Regions from separate parts of the Homo sapiens genome. Here region 2 is linked to region 1. The links come from fine-mapping of genetic effects on gene expression. A gene starts in region 1. The other region holds a variant in brackets. All regions are shown on one strand. Distances are from middle to middle.

The links. PIP is the estimated chance that this variant, and not a neighbour inherited with it, causes the effect.
Region 2: its variant is fine-mapped to the expression of ANAPC13 in whole blood (TOPMed, PIP above 0.99).

Annotation. Positions count from the first base shown.
Region 1 is chr3:134,478,939-134,495,169 of GRCh38, reverse strand. ANAPC13 (anaphase promoting complex subunit 13) reads left to right here and starts at 9,185. Exons shown (of 3, transcript NM_015391.4): 1 at 9,185-9,218; 2 at 12,239-12,364. The coding sequence starts at 12,266. It overlaps CEP63 (centrosomal protein 63), which reads right to left and starts at 9,113. Exons shown (of 15, transcript NM_001353108.3): 1 at 8,968-9,113. RefSeq lists enhancers at 8,181-8,999, 9,091-9,200, 9,281-9,380, 9,411-9,530.
Region 2 is chr3:134,598,290-134,614,520 of GRCh38, reverse strand. It overlaps KY (kyphoscoliosis peptidase), which reads left to right. Exons shown (of 11, transcript NM_178554.6): 9 at 4,138-4,326; 10 at 5,682-5,872; 11 at 10,047-14,598. The coding sequence ends at 10,942. It also overlaps a transcript of CEP63 not described here. Among named protein-coding and RNA genes, the nearest start is that of KY, 45 kb to the left of the region's middle. RefSeq lists a silencer at 10,160-10,454. The variant A/G (reference allele first, on the strand shown) is at 7,215.

The DNA of each region.
Region 1 (16,231 bases):
ACTGTAGAAGCAGTCAAAGAACATCACTTCAGGAATACTAGGAACAAACTATTTCGGACTAAAACAGAATAACTTAAAAATATCTGAATTGCGGTTGACACTCTCTCCGTGTAAATATCAAATATCTCATTGTTCTTTGCCTAATTCCTAATGTCGGGTGAGCAGGGGTGGAGGTGGGATCTCTCTAGCAGACGGATACACAAACTCCCTTAACAAAATGAGAAAGAAATGGGTTCACACATGTCAGAGGGAAAGTATAGCTTTTTAAAAATTAAAGAGATAGTATAAAAAATGCGAAGTGTACTGAGATTAAACTCTTTGGTCTATCATGGGAAAGCCTACTCACTCCTGAAGACAGGCTCATAGAGCTTCCTGCATGCAACATCCTCTCTCCACCGAAAGGCAGCCACAGGGCCCTCCCACCTCTGCACTTCATTTGCTCCCAGTGCTTAATACGTTCTTTCATAGGAGTTGCACCACACTGGAAGTGAGTTTTTTACATACTATTTTTCCTTACTAGACTATTCATCCCTCCAGGGCAGAAACCCAATTTTATTCATCTCTGCAGCTGCAGAGCTCAACGCAGCATTTCAACATGGCACGTGGCAGATTATTTTGGCTGAACTTAACTCCCCTCCCTCTTTTACCTACCCTCTCCCCCATGCAAACTGGTCACAGCTGGGGAACTACATGAAGGGTCTAGCAGAGAAAGAGGGAACGGGAGATAGAAGACTGCCATATAAACAGCAAGATACAGTTGGGTGCGGTGGCTCACGCCTGTAATCCTAGAACTTGGGAGGCCGAGGGAGGCGGATCACCTGAGGTCAGGAGTTTGAGACCAGCCTGGCCAACATGGTAAAACTCCGCCTCTACCAAAAAAAAAAAAAATTAGCTGGGCATGGTGGCATGCACCTGTAGTTCCAGCCATGGGGAGGCTGAGGTAGGAAAATCGCTTGAAGTCGGGAGGCGGAGGTTGCAGTGATCCGAGATCACACCATTGCACTACAGCCTGGGTGGCAGACAGAGATTCCATCTCAAATAAATAAATAAATAAATAAATAAATAAATAAATAAATATAAAATAAAGGGTAAGATACACCATGAAGAAAGGTGACAGTGAGAAAGGAAAGAGGACCCTTAAACTCAGTAGTGTTGATTAATATGTGTATGCTTCTCGCCTTTTATAATAAATCTTCAAAATGTTCAATGTCAAACCACTTTTCATTCCAAAATGCTTTTTCCTTAAACCCTTAAGACAATAACCAGACTGTGGTGTAGAGGTTCTGCCCCTGGGCTAATCCTCATCTAAAAATTATACTGCTGTAAGAAGTAGATTATTTTACTCAACACGTAATTCAATGTTGTACTAACAACTAGATATATAGTGATGAAAGATATGGCCCCTTTCAAGGTATTAATAGTCTAGTATGGGACAGAAAAAAATGAGCCAAAAAGGCTTTCCCAGTGTGATAAATATAGTGAGAGACATGCCCAGGGTGTTCCAGAGACACAGAGGAGAATGAGAAGACTGGAAAATAGAACCACTGCACCTTATTTGCATCTATTTTTAAAGATACTAACAAACTGAGTATTAAATTATTTGTGCACAAACGTGACAGGGAGGATTTTTTTTCTAGTTGGTTTATCCTACATATTACACCAAAATTGCAAAAATAAAAACCTAAAGAAAAAGGTTCCCATGTTTTACTCCACTTTCAAATCACAATACAGTCCAACTACAATGCAACCAAGATTCCATGTTTTGGTCCACTCTAGGAGAACTGGGAGGCAGTACACGGTCCACACCACACTAGATGGAGACCCAGGATACAGTCCTACTCTGCAACTAACTAGCTTTATATTCTCGGACTTGTTTTAACATCTGCAAAATGAGGGGCATGAACAATATTCTCTAAGGTTTCTTCCAGCTTTTTCATGGGTTCTAACAGCCAATTAAATGTCCACTGTAAGTAGCATGCTCCTGACAACCATACACGGATACTTAACTAACATGTAGGAAAGTGCTATTCTTATTGACAGTGCTATCACAGTTATTCAAAATTATCATTAGTAAAATTATACTTATTTAGGTCATGTTATTCTTAAACATTAATATATTTAGTAATATACATTAATATATTTTCTATGACTATTTAATAATATACTTAGAAGTTAAGTTACTGAATGTTCAACAGCTGCCTTGTACACATTGTCTAAATCAATCTTCACTATACTCATAAAAGACAGATACTATTACTTTGAGAAAACAGGCTTAGAGAGTTAAATAACTTGACTATGATAAACTAAAAATTATAGTCCTGGATTCAACCTAGACATTGTGGCAATCAATTGAGTCACAATCGATGTGCAACCTTTATATATTTTACAGTATTCTATATCTTAAAATATATCAGCCTATCTTTTGGCTTAATAGTGTCTTTGCAATAAAAAAAGAAATTAAACTGAAGTATGACATCACTACTGTGGCCACCAGGTGGCAGCAGCACAATAATGAAATAGTCACATAAGAAATATTGCTATTTTAGAAATCAAAATGGTCTAAGATAGAGATTCCTGTTTAAAAAAAAAAAAAAAAAGGAGGGAAGTGGACCAGTAATATCCTATGTGAGAAATAAAGTAAACTTACTAATGTGCAAAGTGTTTCTGTAATACCTTCACCATCTGCCTGGTGCCAAACACCATCAATTCTCAGGATCAGGCAAATAGTAAGGGCTGATTTTCTGTGGATGTTTGTCATCTGAGTTGCTCATAGTTATATCACTGATTCTTTTCCTAACCAACCTGACCATCATTCAACTCTATGCACTATGTCACTTTGATTTCTTCTTTGCATGTGCCATATAATTACATAAAATTAGACCATCCTGGCTAACACGGTGAAACCCCGTCTCTACTAAAAATACAAAAATTAGCCGGGCATGGTGGCGCGCGCCTGTAGTCCCAGCTACACGGGAGGCTGAGGCAGGAGAATGGCGTGAACCCGGGAGGCGGAGCTTGCAGTGAGTCAAGATCGCGCCACTGCACTCCAGCCTGGGCGACAGAGCAAAACTCCGTCTCAAAAAAAAAAAAAAAAAAAAAGAATACAAATAGAATGTCTTATAATAGGCAAATCTTTGAAATTCATTAACATAGACTTTATGAGCTAGAAAGCACTTCAGGCCTCTAATTTAACTTTATCATTTTACAGATCAGGAAAAATATCATAGTATATGCCCAAGACCAAATTATTCACAAAATGGGACACAGGAAGAAAATAAAAACTCCAGACAGAATTATGAATAAATGTGTACATACTAAGAGAAGGGATATGCCTAACCTTCAAGTCTAAAGGAGGATAACAATGCTCTCTGTCCCTGTACCTGCCTTGGTGTCGTTTTCATTACAAAGCTCTATGATTGTGTCAGATATACCATGGCCAGTAAACTATGGCTGTTCCGATGAACAATCAGTATTACTAAGCATTTTCCAGAAAGGCTCCTAATTAAACTGATACCAGTAAATAAGGTATTAGAGAAACTTTTCAAAATATTAAAGTTTTTAAAAAATTGTCCAAACTATAGTTCAAAATCCAGGAAGAACAATGAGAAAGTCTGAGAAATAGGAGTACATAAAAACAAACTTTTATATGAAAAAGTGCCATAAGCAAAGTTAACTGACAAATGACAACAGTACCTGAAAGTTTTACCACAAACGGTTAATTACCCAAATATATAAGGAGCTTATAAAAGATTAGGCAAAAAATCTATAGAAACATGGGCGAGAGGTATAAACAAGCAATGCACAGAAAAATACAAATGACAGTAAAAATATGAAAAGATGTTCAACCTTGCTCATAAGAGAAATACAAATTAAAACTACAGTAAGTTACCCTTTCTTCTGTACCAGATTAACCAAAAATTAAATGTTTGATAATACACTCTGATGACAAGGCTGTGGGACAACAGGCACTCATATACATAATAGGTAGGAATGCAAAATGAACACAACTGCTATAGAGGAGACTTTGGTAATACCTAACAACTGATATATGCATTTACCCTTTTATCCAACAACGCTACTTTTAAGAATCTATCCCACAGGCTCATTGGCAAAAATGCAAAACAACATATCCACAGGGATATTCACTGCATGACTATTTGTAATAGCAGAAAATAACACAAGTGTCTATCAAGAGGGGACGAATTAAATATTCATCCACCAATGGAGTACTACGAAACTGTAAAAAGGAATAACAATCTCTACATACTCCTAAGGAGGGGATCTACAGGACATATATCACTAGGTGAAAAACCCAAGATGGAAAACAGTATACATAATAGCACATTTTACCTAAGAAAGAAAGGTATGTTTGTCCATGTAGATTTGCTTTTAGGTATGTGTTTTTTTAATGGAAGGATAGACTCAAAACTAGTAAAAACAGTATCAGTAAGGAAGGAAAATAAGCAGAGTGGAAGAAACAGAGATGAAAGCTAAATTGTTTTATGGGTACTTGTTTTATGGGAATTATGCTAAGGTTTTGCATATAATAAAACAAATCAAAATGGGGAAAAAAGCAGTACTGAAAAATTGGAAACAAAATAAAATAAATCAACTACCAACTAGATATCAACTTGATAGGCTAACTATACAATAAATTACTTCATATGCCTTTAAATACAATAATTTTACTATACACTTTCCTAGAGACATATAAAATAAGGATAAAAGACAGTTGCAAAGAAATCCTAAGCACTATTCAGGAATCATATTGATAATAAAATAGCCTGTTAACTTGAAACCATTATATATAACATAGGATGAGGAAAAAAAACTAATTCTATTAATGGCACTAGGCACCAAGACTCAGCAAAAAAGATACAAACATAAATCCAACGTGTGAAAAAACTGTAAAATTAAGTTTAAATTTTGGAAATTTAAATGTTAAATGTTGGAAACAATGCGAATTTTGCATATTTGTGTTTTTTTTAATATATAATATTTCCTAACTCTGGCCACCATAAATCCTAGAACTAACGACTAACCTAGTAGCAAGAACACCTCTCCCACCTAGGTAAGACTGTGGTCTCCAAATACTATCTCAGACTCAAAAGAACCACGGCTCCTTGAAGACCAGAAATCTATAAATGAGCCAGGAAAATTATTTACCAGAAAGCAAGGAAATTACCAAAGCTATTGGTCATATCAAATGGAATAGGAGCCAACTTTAAGGAGCTCCCACTGGCCAAAGATGAAACAATTTGAGTATTAAAAACACAACTGCCATATGTTGAAACAGTTTAAATATAAAGTCTATAAGTTCATGATTATAGGTTTACAAAAAGGCAAAAACCCTCATGGTTACCTTTGGAGGCTGCTAGGCCACCAACTCATTACTGTGGTCTGAAAATAGAGGCAAAGAATTAAGCATTTTTCTTGCCTTTCCTGTACAAATTGTATTTCAGGGTAGTCAAACAGCTGGAAAGGGAAAGTTCTTCATAAAAGACTCTCAGTTGATAAATATTGAAGAAATAATAGAATTAGATAATCACCACGTTGCAACCTCTAATGCAATAACGGATACAGGCAATATAACCCCACAAAAGGACTTCACCACTAAGTGAAAGAGTCTTGGGGAATTTCACTATGGGTGGATGGAGCTAACTACACCTAAACCCAATATAATGTTTAATGTTAACATCATAAAAAAAGAAAACAACTCAGACACTGCTTCCCTGATAATTAATGAAATAGGAAGTATACTGCATTACCTATGAAATTATCTGTCCAACCCCCCCAACTATCCCACCAAAAAACAAAACAAAAACAAATATAAGGGTGAAATCTCATCAGGCTTCTAGAGCAGTGCTGTTCAATACAACTTTCTGCAATTATGAAAATATTTTATAACTGCACTGTTCAAAAAGCAGCCACCAGGCAATCTGTAGCTACCGAGCACTTGAAATGTGGCTAATGCAAGTTAGGAACTGAATTTTTTTTTTTTTTTTTTTTTTGAGACAGTCTCGCTCCGTCACCCAGGCTGGAGTGCAGTGGCGTGATCTCGGCTCACTGCAACCTCCACCTCCCGGGTTCAAGCGATTCTCCTTCTCCTGCCTCAGCTTCCTTAGTAGCTGAGATTACAGGCGCATGCCACCACGCCCGGCTAATTTTTCATTTTTAGTAGAGACGGGGTTTCACCATGTTGGTCAGGCTGGTCTCGAACTCCTGACCTCGTGATCCACCCACCTCAGCCTCCCAAAGTGCTGGGATTACAGGCGTGAGCCACCGCGCCCAGCCTAGGAACTGAATTTTTAATTTTATTTCACTTTAATTAACTAGCCACTGCTGGCTGGTGGCTACAATACCGGACAGTGCAATTCTACATCTAACTACTGGTTTAGAGCAGTGGTCCCCAACCTTTTTGGCACCAGGGACCTGTTTCATGGAAGACAATTTCTCAACACCGACAGGGCGGAAATAACACATTTTGTAAATATCTTTTTGTTAAAATTCATATGAAATGTTTTGGGGGAGGAATGGCCAAACCACTTTTTTTTGTTTTTTGAGACCGAGTCTTGCACTCTTGCCTGGTCTGGAGAGCAATGGTGTGATCTCGGCTCACTGCAACCTCCGCCTCCCGGATTCACGTGATTCTCCTGCCTCAGCCTCCCGAGTAGCTGGGATTACAGGCGCACACCACCACACTCGGCTAATTTTATTGCATTTTCAGTAGAGACGGGGTTTCACTATGTTGGCCACACTGGTCTCAAACTCCTGACCTCATGCCCACCTCGGCCTCCCAAAGTGCTGGGATTACAGGCGTGAGTCACCGCGCCCGGCCAACCACTTCTTCAGTAATATGAATAATACACATGGACAGGGTTAGGGGCATGGTTTCAGGATGAAACTATTCCACCTCAGATCATCAGGCATTAGTCAGATTCTTATAAGTGTGCAACCTAGATTCCTTGCATGCGCAGTTTACAATAGGGTTCGTGCCCCTAGGAGAATCTAACCTCACGGCTGATCTGACAGGAGGCAGAGCTCAGGTGGTAGGTAATGCTCACTAGCCTGTCACTCACCTCCTGCTCTGTAGCCTGGTTCCTAACAGGCCACGGACTGGTACTGCTCTGCGGCCCCGGGTTTGGGGGCCCCTGGTTTAGAGGACACAAAGGCAACAGAGATACATGTTAAAGGATACTGTGCGATGCAATCTGCTAAATTTAGAACTGTAAGGAAAAATAGGGGCTAATCCCATAGCTATAACTATGAGGGAACAAATATAGATTAAAAGATGTCAAATGTGCATCACCCAAACACAATAGGCAGATCCCTGTGGGATTTTGGTTCAAACAAGCTAATTGTAAAAAGACATTTAAGAGACAGTTGAAGAAATCGTTATCTGACTGGATATTGACATTAGAGAATTTTTATTAATTTGTGTATGTGTAATGACAGTACTGTGGCTCTGTAAAACTGAAAAACCTAGCTCCTGATGGGGGCGGGGAGGCGGACTAAAATAACATAAAGATCGGAGATTCAGTTCCTGAAACCTTCTGTCAATGTTGGCTTTAGCTGAATTTCAAGTCAAGTTGACATTTTTTGAAAGCAGGAAGCAATGACAGAGTGGACTACTGATGCTGTCACCATCTGCCAGCACAACATAAATTAGAACAGAAAGGACTAAGCAAAGGTCTTCCACCATTTTAACGAGAGGAAATGGCATCAGTACAATCAACATACACAATTTTTACAAACAACTTTTAGATTTGCATCTACATACATTTTAAAAGGCAGTGTGCCTGTTTATAAATCTCTACTCTAATTTAGTTTCAGAGCTTTTTACTACCCTGATCACTGATAATGCCACAGTCAAAAAGCAAACTCAAAATAAAAATCAATCTAAAAATGGTACTGCATGCCAAATAAGAAAATATATACACTTTATCATTAAGCTACAGCTAACAGAAATCTAATCAACGATCCTTATGATTTCCTCGTATCTAAAAAATAAATGCAAGCACTTGAGGAACTGTATAAATACAGGGCATCTACCCTACAATACTGCTTTATTAAAATAATAAATTCTTTTAATAAGTTTAACCAGACATAAGGCTCAGGGAAAACTACTCTGTGCATATCAGCGTACGGTGCTGAAACTGTAAAAGACGACCTGTCTCTGACATCATACTCATCTTTACTCTCCTGATGTCGTAAGGGACGTAAGAAAAACCACATTATAAGCCTAAATGTACTGTCTTCAAGTATCTCCATGATTAAAGTGTTCCTAAGAAACCGTCCTTATTTCTTTCTATCCCTCATTTGTGTGCATGGAGCCGTTAGTTCAGGGTTCTCCAATTTCAGTCCACGATTTATGCCACATTTCCGTACCTCTTGTACTAACATAACCGTTTAAACCAACTCACTATTTTAAAAGCTGCCAACCTTAACATGCCACACTAAATGAGCGGGTCCCCTTGTGCCGTGAATGAAGTAGTCCCAACAGCGCTAGCTAGACAGCAGCCCTGGCAGGGAGGCCGCACTGGGGTCTCTCCGCTGAAAAGGAAGGTGGGTCCGCCGGGGAAGGTGAGTACTGGGCGCAGCTCGCTCGCCCACCTGGCCACTCTCCGAAGCGCCCCCAGCCACCTGGACTCCGAGGAAGGGCTGACCACCTGGCGGGGCCGAACCCCACGCCGGGCTGCGCCACGCCAGACTCCGCCAGTGTGCAGGGCATAGCGGGCCAGGCCGAGGGACTGGGCTTCGGGGCGGACCCAAGCCGGCGGGGACGCGCCTGGTGGTTCGCAGGCCGTTGCGCAAACCGGCCGCAAGCCATGAGGCCGCGAAGCCAGAATCACCAAGGCAGCCTGGGCCGCCTCCAGACCAGGACACGGCAGCCCCTTGCCCCTCCAACTTGCGCACCGGCGGTTACAGGGTTGCCGCAAGCACGCCCCTGAGCCTTCCCGCCGTTACCTCGGGCCGGCGCTGCGCACGCGCGCCACCGCTAAGCTTACGTCCAGCCTCTGTAGTCGGCGCGTTTGTTCCGCCCACTGCCCCCACACTTTTAATAATTGAAACAATGCCTTCTCCAGACTTCCCCTGCACGCGAGCAAATGAACTCACCCACATCCGGGAATCCGAGGAAAGCGAGTGCAGACACGTGATGCGGGGGAGGGGGGGGGGGCGTGGCAGGAGCAAGCGTCTGCCGCGGTGGCCGGGTGCCGGTAAGGGTTTCCAGCGCCCCCGGCCTAGGTTTTGGAGGCGCGGGAATGCGTTCGTTGCTCAGTGTCGGACTTCCCCCTATTCCCATCGGCCGAGGCTGTCACTTTACGCTCATAACCGTTTTTCTTTACTGCACTCGTGTCGGGAGGAAAGGGACTTGCGTGGCACCCCCAGACCTCCCCGTCTCCGCTTCCACGTTTGGTACATCCTGCCTGAGGCAGGAAGCCGCAGCTGAGGGACGGCCTGTCGTACGGTGCGGATGGTGGTGGCCTGCGAGGCTCATTTCTAGCAAGGAACAAGGCTTTCCCGCTTTGATTTTATAAATATTATGTTTACAAAGCTGTAATATATAGAAATTGATAAGACGTGTCCCTGTCCCTGGAAACGCAGGCACCGCGTGTTTGGAAAGACATTCATCTGGGCTGTTTGACAGACTCCCCAGTTGGTGCCATGCTCTGTGCTTAGGGAACTGTGAGACCCCTGGAGGGGTGGGTACCGGGACCGCACTCAGCCTGGGGTTTGGAGGCGGCCTCCTATAGGAAGCGACCTGGGACCTAAGATTTTTAGACTGACTGTGGGTTCACTGGAATAAAAAGGAAGAAACAAAGAGCATTGCAGGCATCGGGACTGTCACGTGAGTAAGAAAAGTTTGTTCAGGAAACAGTGGTCGTACTGGGTGACGAGTACTTGGGACGGTGGCTTTAATACACAAGATAATCAGTGTGCCCTGGGCATTGATTATCTTGATGCTTCCCATCCTTCCAGCCCCTTATGAGGGAAGGCACCTTCGCGCCTAATCCCGGAAATGGGATGTTGACCTTCAAGAGCTGACGCCTGCGTTTATCTTGAAAGGAAGAGTGGCATTAGTGATGTGGAAAAGGGGGTTTTAACTGTCAAGGCTGGAAAATGTGACAGGGTTGGAGGTGTTTGGAGAAGGGACAGGTGAAAAAGATTGAGACCAAATGTGGAAAGATCTACTAAGGAATCATGGGTACAAAATGTACACGTAACAGTTGGAGGCAATAATACCTGAGCAATTGACCACAAAGCTGACCTAGCTTGTTTAGTAGATTAAGTTAGGACAAGAAGCAAGAGTTCAAGGATAGAAGGCCTACTGAAGCTCGAGTGATTTGAGAAAACTTTACAAAGGTGGAAAATCTACGTGGGCCTCCGAAAGTCAGGTTTGGATCAGCTGAGGAAAGTGAGAAGGGTATCCCAGGAGACAGAGCAGCAAGGACAAAGGAGTAGCAGCAGGAAAGTGGGGAGCACTTGTAAGACAGGGACTTCAAAAGTATAACCAAAACTTCGTCTTGCTTTGAGTTATCCACTGGGTAGTACTCGGTTAATTATTGAGTACTGGATTAATTAAGCCCTCACCTGGCTCACCGGTGACAGAAGTAGCAGGGCGCATTTTGCTTAACTTTTGCCGAGATCCTTGTCATGGGGGTGTAAACCCTTTCCCACACCAATCTGTGTATAATTTTTGCCAAGGTGTTAGGGATATCTTGCAGTTATCCTATGGGGGACAGCTGTGAGCCTTTTTGGTTTTTTTTGTTTTTTTTTTTCCGAGACGGAATCTTGCTCTGTCGCCCAGGCTGGAGTGCAGTGGCGCGTGGCGCTATCTCGGCTCACTGCAAGCTCCGCCTCCCAGGTTCACGCCATTCTCCTGCCTCAGCCTCCCGAGTAGCTGGGACTACAGGCGCCTGCCACCATGCTCGGCTAATTTTTTGTATTTTTAGTAGAGACGAGGTTTCACCCTGTTAGCCAGGATGGTGTTGATCTCCTGACCTCGTGATCCGCCCACCTCGGTCTCCCAAAGTGCTGGATTACAGGCGCGAGCCACCGCGCCCGGCCCTGTGAGCCATTTTTACAAAAACTTCCACCTGCCTTGGCCCAAACCTCAGCGTTCTTAGGCACAGGAGCTCATGAACATACTGAGATAACACTAAACTGGACTATGCGAAGGGACCAACTACAGACCTGACACAAATCCTCAAGGCAAGACGATGTCTGAAGTTGAGCTTGTAAAGGAAATGGCTTCCTTCCTTAAAATATCACCCAGGCTGAGCTCTGAAAAAAGCACCTCCAGATGGTGGGTTCCACCCCGCTCCACCACCCCAAAATTGCTTATTGTGTGAGTCTCCATAGTCTCAGAAACTGAGAGTACCTTTGATGCCAGTGGCTTCCGGGCTTTTTGGATTGTCACTTGGTAGCAGGGAGCACCCATAGGATGATGCCTATGATGAGTCAGGGCCCAACCTTGGAAACAGGGAAATCCAGAAGTATCCTACAAGCTAGCCAGCCTTTTGGATTAGATTATAGCAGTTTCAGAGAAAAATGGGGAATCAGCCATGGTCAAGGAGCTAAATAAGCATCGTGACCATTTGGGCCAGAAATTGAAGGGAGTGTAGCGTTAAGAATTAGAGGAAGGAACCTCCGAGGAAGGAGCTACCCCAAAGGGAAGCAGAAACTGGAGAAACTTTAGCAGTATGAGGTTCTACCACTGGTGTTCACCTAGAAGTGCTTTATTCAGATCTCAGCCTGGGTACTATTTTAGGGAAGGAAGCCGTTTCCTTTACAGTATGTTCGTGTGACTCCTGTGCCTAAGAATGCTGAGGTTTGAGCCAGGGGCTAGAAAGGAAACTTAGCTGGCCATTATGAATCAGGGACTCATCAAAGGCATCACAAACAGGAAAAGGTGAATGTTCAAGTTAGAAGAGAAGAGCTACATTGAGATGCAACATATTAATATTTGAGGGCCTCGTTTAACGTGTTGCTCTCCTGTCACACTCTATGACACTGGTCTGTCAGCTGGGCTATGCCTGTCCAGTATACACTATAAAATATGTATCAGTTGGGGTTGGAGAGAGGAACTGTGATCAAAGTAGTCACCCGGCCCATATGAGAAAATGAACCTTTTCCCAAAAGGTGGCCCCAGACTAAAAAGCCTGGAGAATCCTAATAGTGGATTATACCATCTCTTCAGTCTTCGTGTTTAAGAAATAACCTCTTTGGCTTACAGATTTGACAAGATCAAAGCTGCAGGAAAATGGACAGTGAGGTTCAGAGAGATGGAAGGATCTTGGATTTGATTGATGATGCTTGGCGAGAAGACAAGCTGCCTTATGAGGATGTCGCAATACCACTGGTAGGTTATGATTTGAGCTGAGGATGGGTTAAAGGTATTGATCTGGCAGTAACTAGTGGAGGAGGGATATCAATGGAAGATAAACTAGTGTGGCAAAGAAATCAAAGCTGTGGAATTCTCTAACTCTAGAAGCTTCTGGAGAGCATCCAGTTGTATGTTTTATTTGAAGAAAAATGTGGTTCAGGGAGCTAACATGGCCAGGTCAGTTAGGAGTCATGCCAGGACTAGAGCCCCGATTTTCTGAGCCATGTTCTGTCCACCACACGAAAACCAGAGAAACCAAATAATGAGAGTTTAATGCGCAAGATGGGGAAGAACAAGAAGCAGCAGCATATGAGCTCTGTTTCTTACTTCCCTGCCTGTGGCTCATCAGTCTTTCAGCATTTTTAGAAACTTACATTCTTGGAGCATACACCTATCTTAGGTTCCCTGGAAAATATTCAGAAGATACCTGGGTATTCTTTTGCGTTTAGGCCAGTGGCCTTCTGGAATACTCTTTTCTTCCCCATCTTTGGAAAACTCTGCTGCAGGGAGTTTGTTAAACCTCATGTAATAAGTGATCCAAAAGTTTTGCTTATATAAATGTTTGTTTAAAATCCTATTTATGTCATAGAGGCCTAAAAAAGGGAAAACAGGACTGTTTTTCTTTAAAGCATGCCAGCTGCCCTGAGAAGAGTAGTTAGTATTGAATAAAATATAATTTATAGTTAGAATATCTGCTGTTGCTGTTTGCAAAGAAATAAAATAGTTCATCTGTATTTTCATTTACGAATAAGAGATAGTAATATGTTCAATGAATAATATACATATCAAATAAGTCATAGCTTAGTTCAAGCTTAGGAAAATAGTCAAAAGAGAGAGCATAATAAGAATTATAGATGTCATTTATTGAATACCAGTTTTATGCCATGGACTGAGGTTGGAAATATACATTATCTCTAATTCTTAAACAACCCTGTGAGGGAGGTGCTGTTATTCCCATTTTATAGGAAAAGAATAGGATCAGAAAGGGCAACTTGCCCAAAGTCTGGTAGCAGGTAAGTAGGGCTTCATATAACATATACCTAGGTCTGTGAAGTTCCAAATCCTGTCTTGTGAACTTCTGTTCATTCATTCATTTGACAAGCATTTTTTGAAGCCTACTGTGTGCCATAAGACTATGTGAACATAAGATACAGTTCCTCCTCCTGAGGGGTCTAGAAAGGCAACACTTATAGATAAGTAATTGTGATAATAAATATTCTAGGTGGGGGCATAAACAGCCACATCATATACGAAGTGGCTGATTGCCTGGTGGGCATCAGAAAGGCTTCTGAGAGAATGTCATGTTTAAGCTGGGTCATAAGGAAGGACCAGAAGTTTAGTGGAGGTAGACAAGGGTATTGCAGCAGAGGGGACAGATGTGTAAAGGCCCAGAGTTTTGAAAGGCTTTGGGACATGGTGAGTCATTCACTGTGGATGAAGAATACATTTGTCACATAAGTAGGCTGAAAAGTTGGGCTTGGATCAGATTGAGAGTGGTATTTGATATCACACTTAGACCTCATCCTCAGGAGATCCAGGAATGAATGGTCTTAAAAGCAAGACTGCTATGCTCAGATTTGGCTTTTGGAAAATCAGTTTAGCCAGCATTGTTAGAGATGGTGTGACATGGAGATAGGGGCAAGTGAGACCAATTGGCAAGCTGTTGTGGTCTAGGCAAGGGAGGAGGGCCTAAACAAAGTCAAGAAAATAAAGGAGACGTCCATTTCTGGAGAAGTTTATGGCTCAGATTGGAGAACATTTGGGTGGCAGGGGTGGAAGGAGGTTTCCCTGCTGACTTCCAGGCGAAGTTGGCTTGGCCCTGCTGCTAATCCACACCTTTCGCTTGTCTTGCGATTCTAAGGCAATGTGTATGCCAGTTAGGTTTTGCTGCATAACAAGTCACCCCAAAGCTTAGTGACTTAAAAGAGCAACTGTTTATTTCATGATTTTGTAGCTCAGCTGGGAGGGACTTCTAGTCTGCACCAGCTCAGCTGATCCCTGCCAGGCTTGCCTGTGTTGTGCAGTCAGCCAACAGACTCTGGAGGCTGGGTAATCTAGGACTGTCTCACATGTCTGGCAGTTAACAAGCTGTCTGCTGGGTGATGGGGTGACTATGCCATGGTCTCTGGTATCCAGCAGGCTAGCCCAGACTTCTCAATCTCAGGGTTCCAAGAGCAACCTGAGAGGAAACGGCAGAGCTTCTTGGAGCTTAGGCCAAGAACTGGCCCACTGGCATGACAGCTTCATTCTGTTGGCCAAAACAACTCACAGGGCCAGTCCAAATCCAAGATTGGGGAAATCAGTTTCACCTTTTGATAAGAGTAGCTGCAAAGAACTAAGGGCATTTTACAGTACACCATAATGGGTGGCTGGGTTTATGATACTTTTGTTTTTGTTTTCCAGGCATATATGCCATTTTATGTGTTGGCATGTATTGCAAGGGACAGTAGATACCAAATGAAAGACACATTATTTTAGAAAGCATACCACAGATAGGATGAAATTAAGCAACGTTGTCTGCTTCTGAATTAAAGAATTCATTAACCAAGGACCTATTTATTCTTTGTCATCTATAAGTAATTATTAGGACTGAACTTTCTTTTTAAGTTTAAGATAATATATTATTGCGTTACAATAAATGATAGCTCTTCTCAATCTGTTCAAGTATGTTTGAATCTGTCTTGTAGAACAAGATGTATGTGATTCAAATATAGATAAGTAAATATCATTTAATATATATTGAGCATAATTTTAGAGGGGAAAACATATTCACATACTACAAATTAGAATCCAGTGGAAAATTTTAAGTCTGGATATCGCATAACAGTTTGCTAACCATAAAACAAAACACAGATAATTGAAAAGAAATATATTGGTATCTGTGAACTCTGGTACAAAGCAGAGTTTCAGTAGTAATACATTTAAACTTAAAATACAAGTAAATGATCCCAGATCCTACAGTAAGTGTGGCCCATGACTTACCATTTTAAGAAAATTGCTGGTAGGGTGTGAATTGGTCATTTGTTGTGTTTTTTGTTGCTCTGCTCCACCACTAGAGGGAGGTCTTATCTATTAATTACATTTTCAGTGTTTCCTGCCCTACCTCCATTTTTATTATAATATAGACATGTTGGGCCAGGCGCGGTGGCTCGCGCCTGTAATCCCAGCACTTTGGGAGGCTGAGGCGGGTGGATCACCTGAGGTTGGGAGTTCGAGACCAGCCTGACCAACATAGAGAAACCCCATCTCTACTAAAAAAAAATAAAAAAATACAAAATTAGCCGGGCATGGTGGTGCATGCCTGTAATCCCAGCTACTCGGGAGGCTGAGGCGGGAGAATCGCTTGAACCCGGGAGGCAGAGGTTGTGGTGAGCCGAGATCACGCCATTGCTCTCTAACCTGGGCAACAAAAGCAAAACTCCATCTCAAAAAAAAAAGACATGTTGGGTCCAAGATAATTTTTTGGATACATTTCTTGTGTCTAAGGAATATGCCAGCAAACTAGTATTCTTTTAAAGCACGCTCCCGCTAAAGAAGATTTAGGATTCACTCATCTCAGTGTTCCTAGCCGCTAATAATAATAGCAAATATTCCTTGAGCACTGGATACCCCACAGAGTGCTCAGCACTTGATCTGAATTACCTCACCTAATCCTTACAGTAGTCCTGTGAGGTGATGGCTCTTTTGTTCTCCCATTTGCCAAGGAAGAAACAAAGGCCCCAAGGGTTTGCATACCTTGCCCAAGTAACCCAGCAAATGGGAGAGTTGTGGTCTTGGATCCTAGTTGGCTTCCAAAAGCCTCTGCCCTTAACCTTTCTGCCACAGTGCCTCCTTCACAAATGT
Region 2 (16,231 bases), 120 kb before region 1:
CCTTGGGGCTTCTCTGATTGGGTCCCTGAGCCCTGATATTGCTGGAGAGTGGGGGCTGCAGCTTTCTCCAAATCCTCCAGGGTGCTCCTTGGCAGCTTGTTCAGGGCATCTTACATCCATGTTTTCATTGTGGCTTGGGATATATATCAGCCATGAGCTATGGAGGCAAAATTGAGGTTGTCAATTCTGTAAAGTAGAAGCGAAGATTCTGCAGTCTGAGGTCATTAAATAAATCTCCTTGGGTGATATTTTAGGCTCTGGGATGGCTGGTCGGAGCTCTTCAGGAGGTGGAAATGTTTCTAGTCCTCGGCCCCTCCTTCCGTGCTCTCTCAGCTCCTGCCTGCAAAGTTAATTCCTCCACCTTTGGGCTCTCCAGGTCTTTGCTTATAGACTGGGATTTTATAAGCAAAGTTCTGGAGACAGTTCCAGTGACAGTTCCCATATCCACCCTCCTTCCAACTATCAGCACATCTAGGGCAGCCACTGAGCCTTATTTTGGGGATATGATATTTTTTTATGTTGTTACATTGTGTTGCGTTGTATGGTGCCATGTCATGTTATAGCATTCCCTGCTACAGTGCTTTATACACAGTGTGTGCGGCCAGTGATCTTTTGATGACATGAAAGAGTTGTGGTTCATCCTGGCTAGCAAGAGTGGCTGGAGACAAAACTCCTGTGGGTTCCACAATCATCGTCTTATACATACAGAGGATTTTGCATGAGAATTATGGCATATTAACAATAATGCTTTACATTATGACCTTCTTTGTCCAATTCATCTGGCACATTGCTGCCAGGTAATAAAATATCCTCATATCAGAGTCAAGCATGGCATAAGCTTATAACTGAGTTTATATTTTCATCTTTTTTCTGCCCCAGGCATTCCCCACAGCCTTCCCAGCTTCTCCTCAGCCTGTCAGAGAAGAATCAACCCCTGGAGATCATTTAATGCCAACATTTCTCTCTGCCCATGATAAGCCTGGCAAGGTCACTCTAGAGGTGACCACCAGACCTGGGAGGTGACCTTATTTCCTGGCTCAGGGGCCATCACCCCCACTCAGAGCAGTACAGGTGGACATCCCTGCCCCTTGCTTCTTCCTCCTGCTCTCCTTTCCAGGGCTGGGGCAGGCTCTCGCTGCTGCTCCCTGACTTGGTTTTTCCAATCTTGCCTCCACTTCACTCCCTTGAGGGCAGGATGTCCCCCTGGGCACACGGCCTAGGACATGGCTTCTCCCAGGAGGACATTCCATACCCATTCTGATTTACCCCACCGCCTGGAGGCTGCACAAATGCTAAATTCCTCTCCTTCCTTCCTTGACTCCAGGTGGCTCTGAGCAGAGGACAAGCATCAGTGGGCAGCATGTCCAGAGGTCCACAGCGCCGCTAAATCAGTTCACCTTAATGCAAAACGAGCCATTCTCCAAGCCCCATTGTTCCCAGGACTCCCCTTATCCCTCCACATCATCCTAGAAAGTGATATGCACAGACATTCTAGGCAGCAATGGAAAGTAATTTCCTGAAGAATATAATTTTAAGTAGTATTTATGGCTTTTTTTCCAATTCTCAAAGTAACACATAATCATTATTAAAAATTTAGAAAATACAGAGAAGTTTCAAGAAAAACATTAAAATCACCTATAATCCCATTGCCAAAAGATCAGGTGCCTTTTGTGCCATCTCTCCCCCTCTCACTCCCTGCCCCTCCTTCTCTGTGCATGCAGGCAACACACACACACACACACACACACACACACACACACACACACACAGCATCGGCGTGACATTGTGCTGACTGGAGAGATTGACATGCTGTTGTCAGTTCACATCGTGTCAGGGGCACTGCTTAGCTCACTAAATATTTTTCACAACATTTCTTCTCCTCACCCAGTCTCTGAGTAGATGGGGCCCCACCTCCTATAGAATGTCTATCCCACCCCTACACCTCTACCCACTCCTCTGGCCTTGCTTTCCTCTGGTCCTTCTCTGCTAGCTGTTTCCTCTCAGACTATAAACACATCCAGACTTCCTCATCCTGAGAACAACCCCCTCAGCCTTGCATCCCCTCAGCACTCCCCACCACCTTCTGCTCTCTGCACTGCAGAGAAATGAGGAGAGAGCACTCCAGGTATGCAGGCTGCCCCTTCTCCCCTTCCTTCCACGGTCTCCTCAGCTACTGCCTCCTTCTGCCCTGGAGTGGCTTATGGCCTTTGCCAGCAGAAAATCACAACACTGGGATCTAGTTTCTCTTGCAGTCTGTCCCCATGCCCTCAAGTGCTCCCAGAAGCCATCCCACAGAGCCAAGCTGGTATGTTCTTATGGGATTCCTTAGAGGGCTTAGGAGGCCTGAACCTCCTTTTGTGAAGCAACAGGCAAAAGGGCGGGGGCTAGAAAACTTCCAAGCCCCTAAGGAACCTCAGCACTAGTGGCCCGGACTTTCCACAGGTGAGCAGAGGTTAAGGCAGACATGGTAACACCTCATCATTGCATGCATGTGAAGAAACACTGATGGCTGGGAAAGTAGAATCTGTTAACCCTCAGGACATCACATTTGATCCCAATGACTCTCTCAGCAAGTGATATGTATTAGTAATATTTAATCCAATATTTTGCTAATTTTAAATTACATGTTCATTTTTACAAGGAAGATTCCCCCAATTCCTATAGTAGATGCATGGCCATTTCACCCCATTCCCCTGGGAGGCTCCGTGGCCCTCTTGTTTAGAGCAACTGAGGCTGCAGCCCTGGTCTGTGGAAGGGCCCAGCCCCATGGGCCCATCTCACTGAAACAGACCCCACCAACACCCTGGACTGCAGACTCAGCTCAGCTGAGTACAGCACAGGGTCACCACTGAGTTGGGGACTGAGCAGCTTGTGTGGTACTCAAAGGAGCCCCATCAAAGGGGCATCAAGCACATCCTCGGTTTCACAGGTTGTGTATCTATTACACCAATTTTCCATGAGTGCAAGGAAAATGTCTTGAGGAAGGGGAACCTTTTCTAATTTACACAAAGGCCCTAGGAGGGCTAGCATGGGATGTCCCTAGGTCAGACTAGCAGTGAAATTGTCTGCACAGTCCATCCCCTTGGCTGTCCTCAGGGGAGCAGGGCTGCTGAGGAGCAAGACCAGCTGGCCATGAAAGGACACCCAGGGGTCTTGCTTTGGCCTTGGACTGGTGCCCACAGCCCAGGCCTGGGCCTCAGGGTTTTAGCTCCAAATGTCTCATTTTATATCTTCCCCAGAGGTGACCCATGCCCATCTTCCCATCCAGGTTCCCAGAAAGCAGTGCCAGCTCTACTATGAGCAGTGAAGGAGCACAATGTCAAAAGGACCCCAAAGCTCAGGTTGACTGGTCGGCATTTCCATTCCCCTCAGGACAGCCACAGGAGACTCCAGAATTGTGGCCAGGGCAGGCAGTCAGCAAATGACCTTAATGCACCATGATGGCTCTTGCACCATGTTCACAAAGGACAGACCCACCAGTCAGACCTGAGCAAACTGGCAGCTGGCCAGTCCTCCCTGGGCCAGGGCTGGAGACATCCACCGCCTGCCCCGGGGTTCCCCTGCAGGCATCCTTGGGAGGAATAGCAGGGGGGTAGGGCTTGGCTTCTGTACCCTCACAACCAGCAACCCCACAACACCTCACCCATGTCACGAGACCCATCTCTTCAGTCGCATGTCCAGAAGCGCCCTGGTTCTCCCAGCAGCTGTGCTCGCCCCTTACATGTAGGTTTTGTTGCAGGAACATTGTCATTTCCCCTGCTCCTATTTTCTTGAAGCCAGCCTCACGCTTGCCCCCATTTTTTCCTCCTGAAGAGCTGCTTGAGGAGCGTGTCAAGCAGGCTCTAGGGATGAACATTTCAGAAGTGATCTGAATGGTGTTGGTCTCAGGGGAGGAGCAGACAGCGGAGACTGCAGCCAGTCTGTACCAACAGGACCAGCCAGCACTGTATCTCCCTGTCCCCAGTGCCCCGAGATAAAAGCCATCAAGGCTGTTTATATGTGAGTACAAGAAGCAAGGAAAAGGATAGACAGGGAGGACTGATGGGCAGCAAACATGCCTGAAACCTGAGACCATGGACAGACTTGGAGGCAAGCCACAGCGGGATCCCCCTCTCAGACCCCCTGTCCTGCCCCCAGGCTCGCCGGAGTGCAGTGTATGACCGTGCCTGGCTACTCCAAGGGTTTCGGCTACCAGACAGGGCAGAGCTTCTCGGGGGAGTTTGACCATGCCTGGAATGCTGTGTACCTGGAGGGAAGATGGCACCTGGTGGACAGCACCTGGGGCAGCGGCCTGGTGGACACCATCACCTCCAAATTCACCTTCCTGTAAGTACTTGTCTCAGTTCTGCTGGGCGTCTGGCAGGTGGAAGTGGAGGATGTGCCAGGCAGCATGAAGCAGCAGGTGGAGAAGACCAAGCGGGAGGGGAAGGAGAGCCAGGAGGCCCCATGCCCACTCCTCCTCGGCTCTGAAGTGGGCTGGCTCCAGGCCAATTGTGAGGGCCCAGACCCTTTTGTCACCTCACCCTCCACTGACAAACTCCCCACTCTGACTCCCTATAACTCCCTCCACCAAAGCACTGAAAGCCTGCAGCATTTGCCCCCAGACCACACATGAGGAAAGGTGGGCTAATAGCCTTCTTTAGTTGTTGGCAGGTTCCCTTCCAGACTTTGGCCATTGACCACATTACCAGGCACAAATGCCAGAATGATCTCTTACTGCTTTGCCCAGACACCAGGCTCCTTCTCCTCTCAGGTCTGAGTGAGACCGTATCACATTTCTGAGGAAAGGGCTGTGGTTTTTGGGGAAGGGGTGCTATTGGCGGTGCAGGGTCACTGTGAGGCACAGTGGGGCAGGGCAGCCGGGGTGCAGAGGACTGGAGCATTTCTGTCCTCTGGGGCTCTGGCCAATCCTGGCCTTAACCTGAGGCTACATACAATATTCTTCATGGATCATGATGTTATCAGCAGCTCAGATTCCTTTTTATTCAGAAACATGAGTGTGCTCTCTCGATTTTTGCACCTTAAATCTTGACACTCCCACACATGGGACAAATACAAGCCATGTGCACACACATCCTACACGCAGGGCTCGCGTACTCACAGATACCCTCTTTACCTCTGTTATTCTCAACACTGCTCCTCTTAGGCAGAGCAAAGCCACCCCCATCTCAGGAAGGGCCTCTCTGTTCTTCTCTTGATCCCCATTACTGACATCCAGAGAGGCAGCACTCCAGTCGGCCCTGGAGAGCCACAAAAGGTCCCCGCCAGCACAGCTGCACAGCACAGAAACAGGTTGGGGTAGATGGAGGCAGTGAATTCAAGCACTCTGTCTCCCTGCCTTCCCACGACCCCACTGCGTGGTCCACAGGCTATGCCTTTCCCCCCTTTGAACTTCTGATTGTCTTTGAGCATGAGGCAGTCAGTTTTCCCCTCGACAGCCTAGGGCACTGAGTGCAGACCACAGTTGCAGGCTGTGGCCTTCCCTTAGAAGGGACCTCAGACCCTGCCTTGACTACAATTTCTGGAAGCATCCACTGAGGAGGAGTCTCCAGTGCCCATGTTAGGGTCGGAGATGGTGCCTCTTCCCATCCAGGGTGTCCATAGGACCACTCCGGTGGGTGTATTGGGCCCCTGCCTCCCCTGCATGGAGCTGGCTGCTAACCAGCTTGTCTCTGCTCCAGCTACAATGAGTTCTACTTCCTCACCCACCCTGCACTGTTCATCGAGGACCACTTCCCAGACAACAAGAACTGGCAGCTGCTAAAACCTCCTCAATCTCTGAGGCAGTTTGAGAACAACATGTATCACAAGAGTGAATTCTACAACAAAGGGATGCTGAGTGCCCACCCAGAGACTTCCATGATCAGAACAGGTGAGCCCGGAGCAGGTGCCAGTGTGCTAGCAGCAGGAATGGAGCATTTCGCACTGTCCTCCAGGAGCCCGCCTGAGACTGCGCTTTCAAGGCATGCCCTTCCAGACGCATGGCTTGTGAGCTTAGCACAAAGCTTGTGTGTGCATGTGGATGAGTGGAGGCTGCTGAGGCAGCCCAGGCCATCAGGGCAGGGAAGGGCCATAGGCCACATCAGCAGGGACAAAAGCTCACTCACACTAGCATAAACCCAGAAAGGGATGTGTCTGAAGGCTGCAGGTTTCCTAGAACTTGAAGGCTGAACACACAGCCTGGCATGTCACAGAAGCCAGGGCTGGGCACTTCCTAGCTGGGTGAGTCTCTCTCAGTTCACATAGCAGGGAAAAGGACTACGTCACCCTGGCTACACATAGCCTCTGGGCTCAGGTCCCCAACAGAAGCTACTGGCCTGCTGTGTTCTCTTCCCCAACTCCTGCTGGAGAGAATACATGGCCTCAGCAGAGCTGGAATCTGGGTGTTGGTGGTCCAACCAGCAAGGATGGGGAGCAACATGGGTCTCCCAGGACAGGTGGGGGCAGTCCCACCCAAGACAGAGAGTTGGGGCAGACTTCCTTAGGGAGGTGGCCACTGAGCTGGGTCTTGGGAGAGGAGAACAGGCCTAGTAGCTAGACAGAGATGGACATGTTCTAGGCAGCAGAGGAGAGGCGGGGACACAGTAAGCCCCCAGCCTCCAAACTCAGGCACCCCTGGATGAGGGCCAAGCTCCAGCACCTCTGCCTGGCTGGCTCAGTACCCCTCCCTTCTGGAGGCGGGACCCAGCCGTTTCCAGCCCACTCCCCTGGGGCAGTATAGGATACCCAGCTTAGCCATCTCCCATGGCTGGCCTGGGCTGACATGTGCTCTCCCAACCTTCACCACGGAGCCATGGCAGCTGAGTATGTTTGCACACTCTGAGGCATACGGGGGCTGCCCTGGAGGGCCAGAACTGGTCACAAAAAAGCAGGGCCTTCTCTGGAAGATTGTCTCTTATGCCTCTCCAAGGCCTTGGCACCTGATCCAGTGCTGGGCACACAGCCTGGGCACGCTGCACAGCCCTGTAAGTCGGGTCAGTCCAGCCTCCCACACCTCAGCAAAGGACTGCCTGGTGGCACCGTCTCTGCCACTGGGGCCTCCATCCGCCCAGGACAGGAGGTCTGAGCTCACACTGACTATTAGCACAGGGTGCCTGTGGGTGGGCCCAGAGCCCCTGGGGAGCTCCAACCCACATTGCAGGGCAATGGGGCAGCGGGGAGCACAGGTGTCCCCAAGTTAGTTCCAACTGACTTGTCCCTTCCACCACACAATG[A/G]CTTCCTTTGCCAAGTTGCTGAGCTCTTGCAAACTCTTCCAACTCCAAATACCTGGCAGCTCCTGCAGCTAAAATAACAGCGTGAAGTTGCTCAATTTGAGAATCCATTTCCTGTGCTTACAACAGATGCAGGGCTTGTTCAATGTATCATAGGCCGTGGAAATATCGGAAAGAACTGACCAGGTCAAAGCAACACCAAACTGATGTCATTGAGTGGAGTTTGCCTTTTTAAGAGACATAAAAATATAAACACCAGATTCCTTAATTTATAGAAATCTAAACCTAAATATGATTCCATATATCTGATACTTATGTACAGAGTATTTCTTTGTGGTAGCTAGTTCTGTTAAGAGAGGGGAGGGGAAGGAAACAAAATAGGGAAACTGAGATGAGCAGAAAGGAAGGGAAGGAAGAGGGCACCTAGATAAGGGGCTGGAAAGCTGCCAGGCTCTAGGAGAGTGCCGTGGAGGGGAGAGGGGAGGAGGAGGAGGAAGAGGGGACTGGAAGAGCCGTGGACTCCCATAGAGGTCTGCAGGGGTGGCTAGTCCTTTATTTCAAGTCTTCCCAGTCATTCAACACACCTTTGGCAAGAACCCTCTGGGTGAGGCACCACAACCAGGCACTAAGACGTGGCAGGAAATGAAACAGGCTAGCCCCTTCACCACAGAGCCCACAGGCCAGCAAGGAGTTCGGACACTACACAAAAATGATCACATGATGAATTACAGCAGTGGAACGTTCCCTGAAGGACAGCCAGGGCTAGGAGAGAAGCTGCCAGGGAACTCAGCCTCAGCTGAGGGGTCCGGGTGGGCTGCTTTGCCACGGGGACATTACCATGAAGCCTTATCCAGGTTTGGGGGAAGTGGTGGGGAGGGAGGAGAGGGTAGGAGGAACCTGAGGCATGAAGGGTTGTGGCCTTGGAGGATCTGAGAGAGTGCTTGATACTGGCGAGGCAGGAAGAGACAGGCTTCTCCACGGGTCTCCAGCTTGAGGGCTCTGCCGTGAGCCCAGGAGTAGCCAGGTGGACGTTTTCAAAGGAGCCCTGGGGCTGCTGTGTGGGGTGCTGGGTGGTGCTCCACAATCAAAGGTGAATCTCAGGGGGATCTGGGCTTCACTGTGCAGAAAAGACTCACAGCCAGTTGTGAGATGGAACAGGACCAGGGGCCGTGAGCAGTGAGGAGCTGAGGTAGCTTCTGCCCACTGAGCTGGTTCAGAAGTGAGGGGAGAGGAGGGTTTTCACCAAGAGGGGATAGCAACTCTATTGATCTTGGTCACTTTCCTTTGGAGGTTACCATGGGACAGATGTGGCATGCAGTGGCTGAAGGCAGTAGAGAAAGCATGTAGACAAATAAAATAGCATGAAAGCACCAAGAGTCACACAATTTCAGTGTAACAGAAGGGGAAGCAATGGCATTGGAGTTAAGCAGTGCTCAGAGAGTGGGATGAGGGCCAGTCCTCAAAGAGTGGGGGTCGCAAAGAGGGGAGAGTACTCAGAGGAAGGCGTGGAGGCCAGCAGCCTAGGTCCTCCAAGGTCTGAGAGGCCTCGTTATTAGGAAGTCACTGGAGGGTGGGGGCAGAGGGAAGTCACTGCAGTGCCAGAGAGCTGACCGGCAGAGGGGAAATGGAGGCAGTGGGGGGATGTGTGGGAGTGTAGGGCAGGTGCGGAGTGGGCAGTATGTGACAGGGTTGGGACAGCTTTTGAGCTGGGACAGCCACGAAGAAGGTAGAGGGGCTGTCTAAGCAGCCTCCCCATCATGCTGGCCCATGTGGTCTTCTCCCATTCCTGAGGTGGGAGTTGGCATGGAATGCAGATTCAATGAGAAGTCTATTAAGGCCTTTGTCCTAGAGCCCAGGCACAGTGTTCTGCCTCCCCTACCAAGAGTCCAAGCTAGGGGAAAGTTCCTAGGGACATGGATCAGACAGCCTCTCTCCTTCCTTTGCACTCAACTGTGAACGGGGCTGGGGAGGTTGCTGGGGCTGGGAGCAGATGACCAGCTTCTGAGAGAATTAAGACCAGGCTCTAAGAGAAGCCACGGTCCCTCCCTGTGGCCCTGGAAGCCAGGAGGGACCAGGCAGGTGGGTCCTCATGGGCTACAAAGACTGGAGAACTGACCACCTGTCCCTCAAAATCAATGACCAGGACAGACGAAGATGAAACTTCAGAGCAAGGGGAGAGATGGGGGGTGGCAGTGTGGGGGTTGCAAAAGACCCTCCTGTGCACACACTGACTCTTCAGGACCCATTCCTGAAACATGGCTAAGATACACCTATGTGAGAAGCATGGGGTGGGGGAGGTGGGGATCAGGGAACTGCCCCACCCCAACCTCCTATGCACAGTCTCAGGGAGTGAAGCCATTCTCACTAGTTTTAAGGACAATGCGTTGACATGACAGCATTGACACTTAGACAGATGCTACAGGGAGCAAGGTGCAAGCTAGACCTGAGACTTGGGGGAGATGGTGCCCCTCCTGACCCATGACCCTCTCTGGACACAGGCAACCTTCATCTAATGTGAATCAATTGGGCAGGATGCACACATACAGCTTGGGATAAATTTTTCTAGAGGCCCCTTAGCTTTCATTTCTCTCAAAGAAAACCACCTGAAGGGAGCAGGGAACCCTTCCAGCGGTGTGCTGCCGCTGGCTGATGCCATGCTCAGTGAAGTCATATTGGTTGCTTGAAATGGACTGTGGTGAAAGTATTAACACCGTGGAAATAGACAAGCTCTATAAGTCAGGACGTTTTTCTCCCAGGGAGACAGTTGTTAAACATTTACCAGCACATCAGCACGTGCTGGACCCATCTCTGCTGACCCTGACTTTCTCTCCTCAGTGAATGGGAAGGCCACGGTCACCATTGAGAGCTGCGCCCCGACGCTGTTCATGTTCATGCTCAATGGCAAGCAAGAGCATGGGCTGCTGAGCCTAAGGAAGAATGGGATGAAGTTGGAGGTGTACCCTCCAACCATGGGCACTCACAAGCTGCAGATCTTTGCCAAGGGCAACTCCGACATCTACAGCTCAGTGCTGGAGTACACGCTCAAGTGCAATTATGTGGACATGGGTGTCCAGCTGCCTGCTGAGCTTCACCAGCCCGTGGGCCCCAGCTGGTTCTCGGAGCAGATGGGCATCATGAAGCCCTCCCACCCTGACCCTATCATCCACACCAGCGACGGGCGCTGCTCCATCAGCTTCAGCGTGGAGGAGGGCATTAATGTCCTGGCTTCCCTCCACGGGGATGATGGCCCCATCACTGAGGAGACACAGCGGCGCTACATCTTCCAGCTGCACCGGGAGAAGCAGACCGAGCTGAAAGTCCAGCTGCCCCATGCAGGCAAGTTTGCCCTCAAGATCTTTGTCAAGAAGAGGCAGGAACCAGGAAACTACATCTTCGTCTTTAATTACCTTGTATGCTGTGCCAACACCAAGGTGAACTGGCCCATGTTCCCTGAGAGCTTTGGCAACTGGGGACAGGACAATGAGCTGCTGGAACCTCTGTCAGGTGTGCTTCCTGCCAACCGGAATGTCCCATTCAAATTGAAGCTGCATGGTATTGCCAAAGTCCTGGTGAAGGGGCAGGACACATGGCCCCTGACCCTGAACCACGAGGGCTACTGGGAGGGAAGCTGCAGCACAGCTGGCTGCCAGGAAGTCTATGTCATGGTGCTGGAGAATGCCAACCACAATTTCTACTCCTACATCCTGAAATACAAAGTGAATGCCCAGTGAGGGCTGTGCCCCGGTCTTACCCTCCCAAAGGGCCAAGGCCAGACCTCCCCAGGGAGGGCTCGAAGGAAGTGCAGGGAGCCCTGGACACCACTGAGTCTGCATGAAATCCCTTCTAGGCCTCTGCCTCAGTGTCCCACCTCTGCCACAGGAGCTGTGATCTTTGTGTTCTGAAGGCTTCACTCAGGTGTGGCTGTGACTGAGGGGGCAGAGGCAGTGGCTCTTTAGAAGGAAAAGGTGCTATGTAAATCTAAGGTATTGTAAACTGTACACCTGCATCCAGATGCCCCTTCTCGTATTAGTGCTGCTGCTGTTGTTGTTGCTGTAGGGTTGATGAGGGAAAGCAGGGATATTGCCCAGGTTGACAGCTTTTCACATGATGCTTAGAGAATTCTCTTCCATGCCCAAGGGGACATGATTTGCAAGGCTGGGTTGTCCTTGAATCACAGAGCCCCTTTCAAGCAATATCACCGTGCCTCTCGACAGCTCCGAGCCCCCAGGGAATCTTGGACTATCTTCTCCTCCCAGACCTGATCATCTTCTGCATCCTGCTGCCTCTTCATTAGCTACTTCTTGTTCTTCAAGAGCCCAAGAAAAAGGGTGTGGTGAGGAAGCCAGCTGACCCACAACTGGCTGGAAGCTGATCGTCTCCAACATCCCTAAGTATAGTCAGGAATGTGACAACCAGAAAGTTGTGAGGAGACTGCAAAGCAAAGAGCAGCCCATGCCCGCTGTGGCTGTGCAGGTGGGAGGGACACTGTCGGCAGAGCTGCAGCCTTGGTCTGAGGGTGTAAGACCTCCAGCTCTGCTCTGAGAGGAGTACACAGGGCAGGTAGTTCAGTCTAAGGCCTGGAGTGCCCTCCAGGCCCTCACAGAGCCTGGGCCTCAGGCCCCTGCCCCACCTCCACAGAGAGCCTCCAGAGGCTGGCCAGGCCCTTGGGGAGTCTTGTGGATAGCCCTGAATAAGGACCTGGGCGCAGATCAGGTGAGTAGTGCAGTGCGGCAATGCCGAGGAGACTCACACTTTAACAGGGCTCTGCCTGCCCCCAGTGTCTCTACCAGCAAAGCCAGGGCTGGGAAGAATTCCAGCTGCACGAGAGCAGCTTTTGTGCCTGTCTCGGAGAAAACATCCTATCCCGTCTCCTTTCCTCCCTTCTCTGAGAAGACAGCCCCCTCCAGTCTCACCTTGCATGGGGACAGCTCAGGGCTCCTTGCTTGCTCAGGCACAGACTGAGAGGCCTCAGCTGCCCAGCTGGCCCTCAGCAGCGCCTCAGGCTGCCGTTGCCATGGCAACGGAGGAAAGGCTGACTTCAGCGAGGGCAGATAAGAGGGAAAGGCGAGAGAGGCCCCACATGGCCACTGCAGAACCATCCTGGCACACAGACATGCTCCCTGCTGAACTCCCGGCTTCTCCAGCTCCGTGGCCCCTGGCTGTCTCAGTGCCCCCCAACCCCTGAGAGCCAGCACTGCCTGGCACCTCTCCCCACAGCCCCTCCACAGGCCTCCAGGCTCAACCACAGCCAGGGCCAGCTGGGACCCTCATAGCTTCCTCCGTGGCACTCACCCTCACATCCCTGTATCCAACAAATGCTCACAGAAGTACCAGATGCTTGGGCTACAGAGGTGAACCAAGGGGGCCCGGCCCCTGCCATCCAGAGTACAGGGTGAGGAAACTGCCAGGCAGCAGCAGCCTTCCCTGCCCAGGCCTGACTGAAGATCCAGGCTCCAGACACTTCTGTTCATTATCCCCCGGGATCCCTCCCCTAAAAGTCCCCACTGCCACCCAGCACGGTGGCCTAGCCCAGAACCAGCTCACAAGGGTGCCCATCATCCAACAGGCCGGCGGCCTCGAGCAAAAGGGGTGTCTCCCCTGGGGGGCTGAACTGTCCTGGGCAGGTCCTGCGCCCTCCGCAGTCTCTGCCACCGAGGCCACCCAGCCAGCCTCGTGTCACTCACACCTGAAAAATGCACAAAGGCCCCGGAGGCATAACAGCTATGCACCACCACAGGGAAACAAAGGGAGTTTTACACCCTGAAAACAGCCGTCTTGCACACTTCTGATTTTATGGGCTTAAAGAAATGTGTTTGTTTCATCAAAACAATAAGTGCCTTCGATGACGCATGTCACTCACTGGACCCCGCGCTGGCTGCCTCGCTTAGTCCTGCTGGAGACCCCCATACCTTTTCGATATGCAATATAATTAATCAATACATCCTGGAGCATTGCAGAGAATGCCACCCAGCAAAATAGGAGCTGTCCCCAGCACCAGAGAGGGAGGCCCCGCCCCTCAAAGCACCGCAGGGCATCAGCAAGCCCCTCCCTCTCGTTTAACTAGGCACCCCCTTTGTAAAGACAGCTGTAGGCGCAGTCAGAAAATCACCTGCATTTCTTTCCACTGAAGTAAAAATACATGAAATGAAATCTAATCTTCATGAATTTTTACACGCATGCTGCTCAGGGTAGACATTCGGAGTTGCATTTTGAAGGCTTTTCTTTAAATCCCCATCTTTGTTTCCCGGGCGACGAGTCCCAGTCGCCGGCGGAATGGCACGGGCGCCCCCAGGTGTCCGAAGTGCGGAGCTGCCGGCGCTGCACACCGCGAGGCTGATCTATCACCGGGCTTTTTCGCAGAACTTGAAAATGCTGTGGAAATGTTTATGTTAAAATCACTAGGTGCTTTCTCGTGGCTTCTCAGCGCTACCTTATGTGTACACGGAGGACATCTTTGTCACGCACAAGCTGTGAGGGCATCCTGGGGGACAACCTGGTGTGTTGAAAAGACAAGGGATGTGATGGGACTGTTTTGCCTGGAAATAACTTCTTGAAACAGAAGCACTTGACATAGGACTGGATGGAACAGCTGTGACTACACTCATTACTATACCATTGAAGGATTGGAACCGATCAAACTCAGAAAGTATCTGCTTGCAATTCTCAGGATGGCAGCCCCCAGGCCACAGGGCAGAAGGGAACCGAGGGTGGAGGAGTGGTGGGCAGAGGCACTACAACCACAACTTCAGTACACTTCTTTCCAGCTTGTTTCAGAAGTGCCATAGCTCAGCTGGACTCCATTTTCAATCTGATTATGATCATTGTGAGTTCCCCATATGTTACATTGTCCTACCAGGACAGCCTCCTCACTGCCTGCTAAGATTAAAAGTAAATAAATAGACTAACTGAAGCATGAAGGATTTCGGCTAGACATAAAGAACTATTTCCTGTTGTTAAGCAGGAGGGACAAGTTGCCAAGAAAGTTTGTGAAATCCTCTTCTCAAAGGACTTGAAAAGGAGAAAAGTTTTCCCAGTGGTCTGAGGTTTTAGATGCCATGTTCACTAGAAGGAGTGGGTTTTCTCCTCTCCAAACCAATTAATTCCTGAGATATCCTGGTCTGCCTGCAGCAAACAGAGGGTTAACAGCATCACTACATCATTTGCTATTGGCAAAATTTTCGAAGATGGTGTGCCTCTATTGCCCGCCTCAGTTTATCTTAGGTCTATAATTTCTTTTCATTTGGAGTAAGTAGTCGGCAATTGAAAGAGGTGATTACTTCTCATAATGTGTGCATTGAGTTGTGTGGGCCGGTGGCTGTTGAGTATGCTTTCTCCATGTTGTTGCTGGTGTTGTTTTTCAATAAAATTTATATTCATTTTTATCCAACAATGTAATTATCGATTCATTCTTATCATGTATCTCACAAGGTGGGAAATGGAGAGAAACAGGAAAAATGCTTTCATGTTCAAAGGAAGCCCTAGAAAAAAATCAATGTCCCAGCCAGTTGAATGCGACGGTGAGATGCGAATGGAATGTCAGGCAAATAGCTATTTCACATTAAAGAAAACATAATCAGGTTAGCTCCAGCCACTCTATGGTTCACATGCCTTTGAAGAACACGAAGGCACTGTTTCTTTCATTGAATCTTGTTTAACTTGAAAATTTTAAAGTCAATCCTAATTTATTTTTACAGTGGGAGAAAAAAAATTACCAAAAATGCCTATCAGCCTACTTTTCTTTTGAATGTATATAAATATGTACTTCTTGATATTCATATACATGCAGAAACTTTCCAGCCGGTCACCTAAGCAGATTATTCATAAACTAGACATTTAGAGAAATACAGAAAATGAAAAATCCAGACATTTCTGAGAAGCTGCTGTAACCATGGAGACCATTCTCGTAGCTGTAGTGTGAAGGACAAAAAGAACTTGTGTTCCCAAATCTGGCTTCGTCATGTCTCTCGCTGCTAGATCCACAAAAACGAGGCCCAGCATGCTTCTCCTTAGGAAGGAGACCCGGCAGCATATTAAGAGGAAGTCAGAAGAAACAGTCTTCCACACAAAAGAAGGAGTAGCTCTTGAGTTATTAGAACAGTCTGAAAATGCCATCCCCAAAGCTGGAGTGGATGACCTCCAATGTCCCTTCCAGTCCGGAGAGTTTGTGATGCCGTGTCTCTGTGAACAGATGCTGGCAGGCAGTGGGCCTGGGGTTGTCAGTTACAGAACATCTGAAGGGCCCTGCTGTGGAACATCTGAAGGGCCCTGCTGTGTTAAGAGCCTGCCCCTGGAGCCCCTGGCAGACTGCACTGCTGGCTCCTCTCTTGCCTGAGGGCAAGGGGCTGGAGAAAGCCCAGCAGAGGGACCAAAGGGGAAGAACAGCCTCTGACAGGATGCTGGTTCTGTCTGATTTTGCAAGCAGAACTAAAGGAAACTGAAAGTTAACGGGGATGTCCTCTTTGGGGTGTCCCACAGGCATCTCCGAGTCAAAAGATGCTAAACTGGAGTTACTTCTCTCCCTCAAATTACTCCCAACTCCTCCTGGGTCCCCAGTTCAGTAAATGCATCCCTATCCAACCAGATAACTAAGTTAGACTCATGGCAGTCACTGGTGATGAAACCCAGTCCCTTCTGGATGTGTCTCACCTCCCACCTGCTCTCCCAACTCCACCTTCTCTCCTTTCCCACGACCTGCTACAAACCAGGTCCTCATGATCTCAGCTATACTGTTTGTGTCTTATACTTTCCATGGGGAGATGAAGCCTCCCGGCCCTATTACTGTCCACAATGGCCTCCCATTCATATATTCTTATCACACTAGGACGATAGGGTTGTTAAGACAAGGTTTCCAAGAAATCCTTTCAGAACAATCTCACCATCTCTGGAAAGACATAATTGGTATTAGGCACTAGCGGGAAAGGCAGGTCTTCAACAAAAAACTGGTTTTTATAGGGAATCGGAAAGAAGCACTGTCTCCTTTTTCTCTAAAGAGACAAGGTGCCAAGGCCACCCAGTCAGCC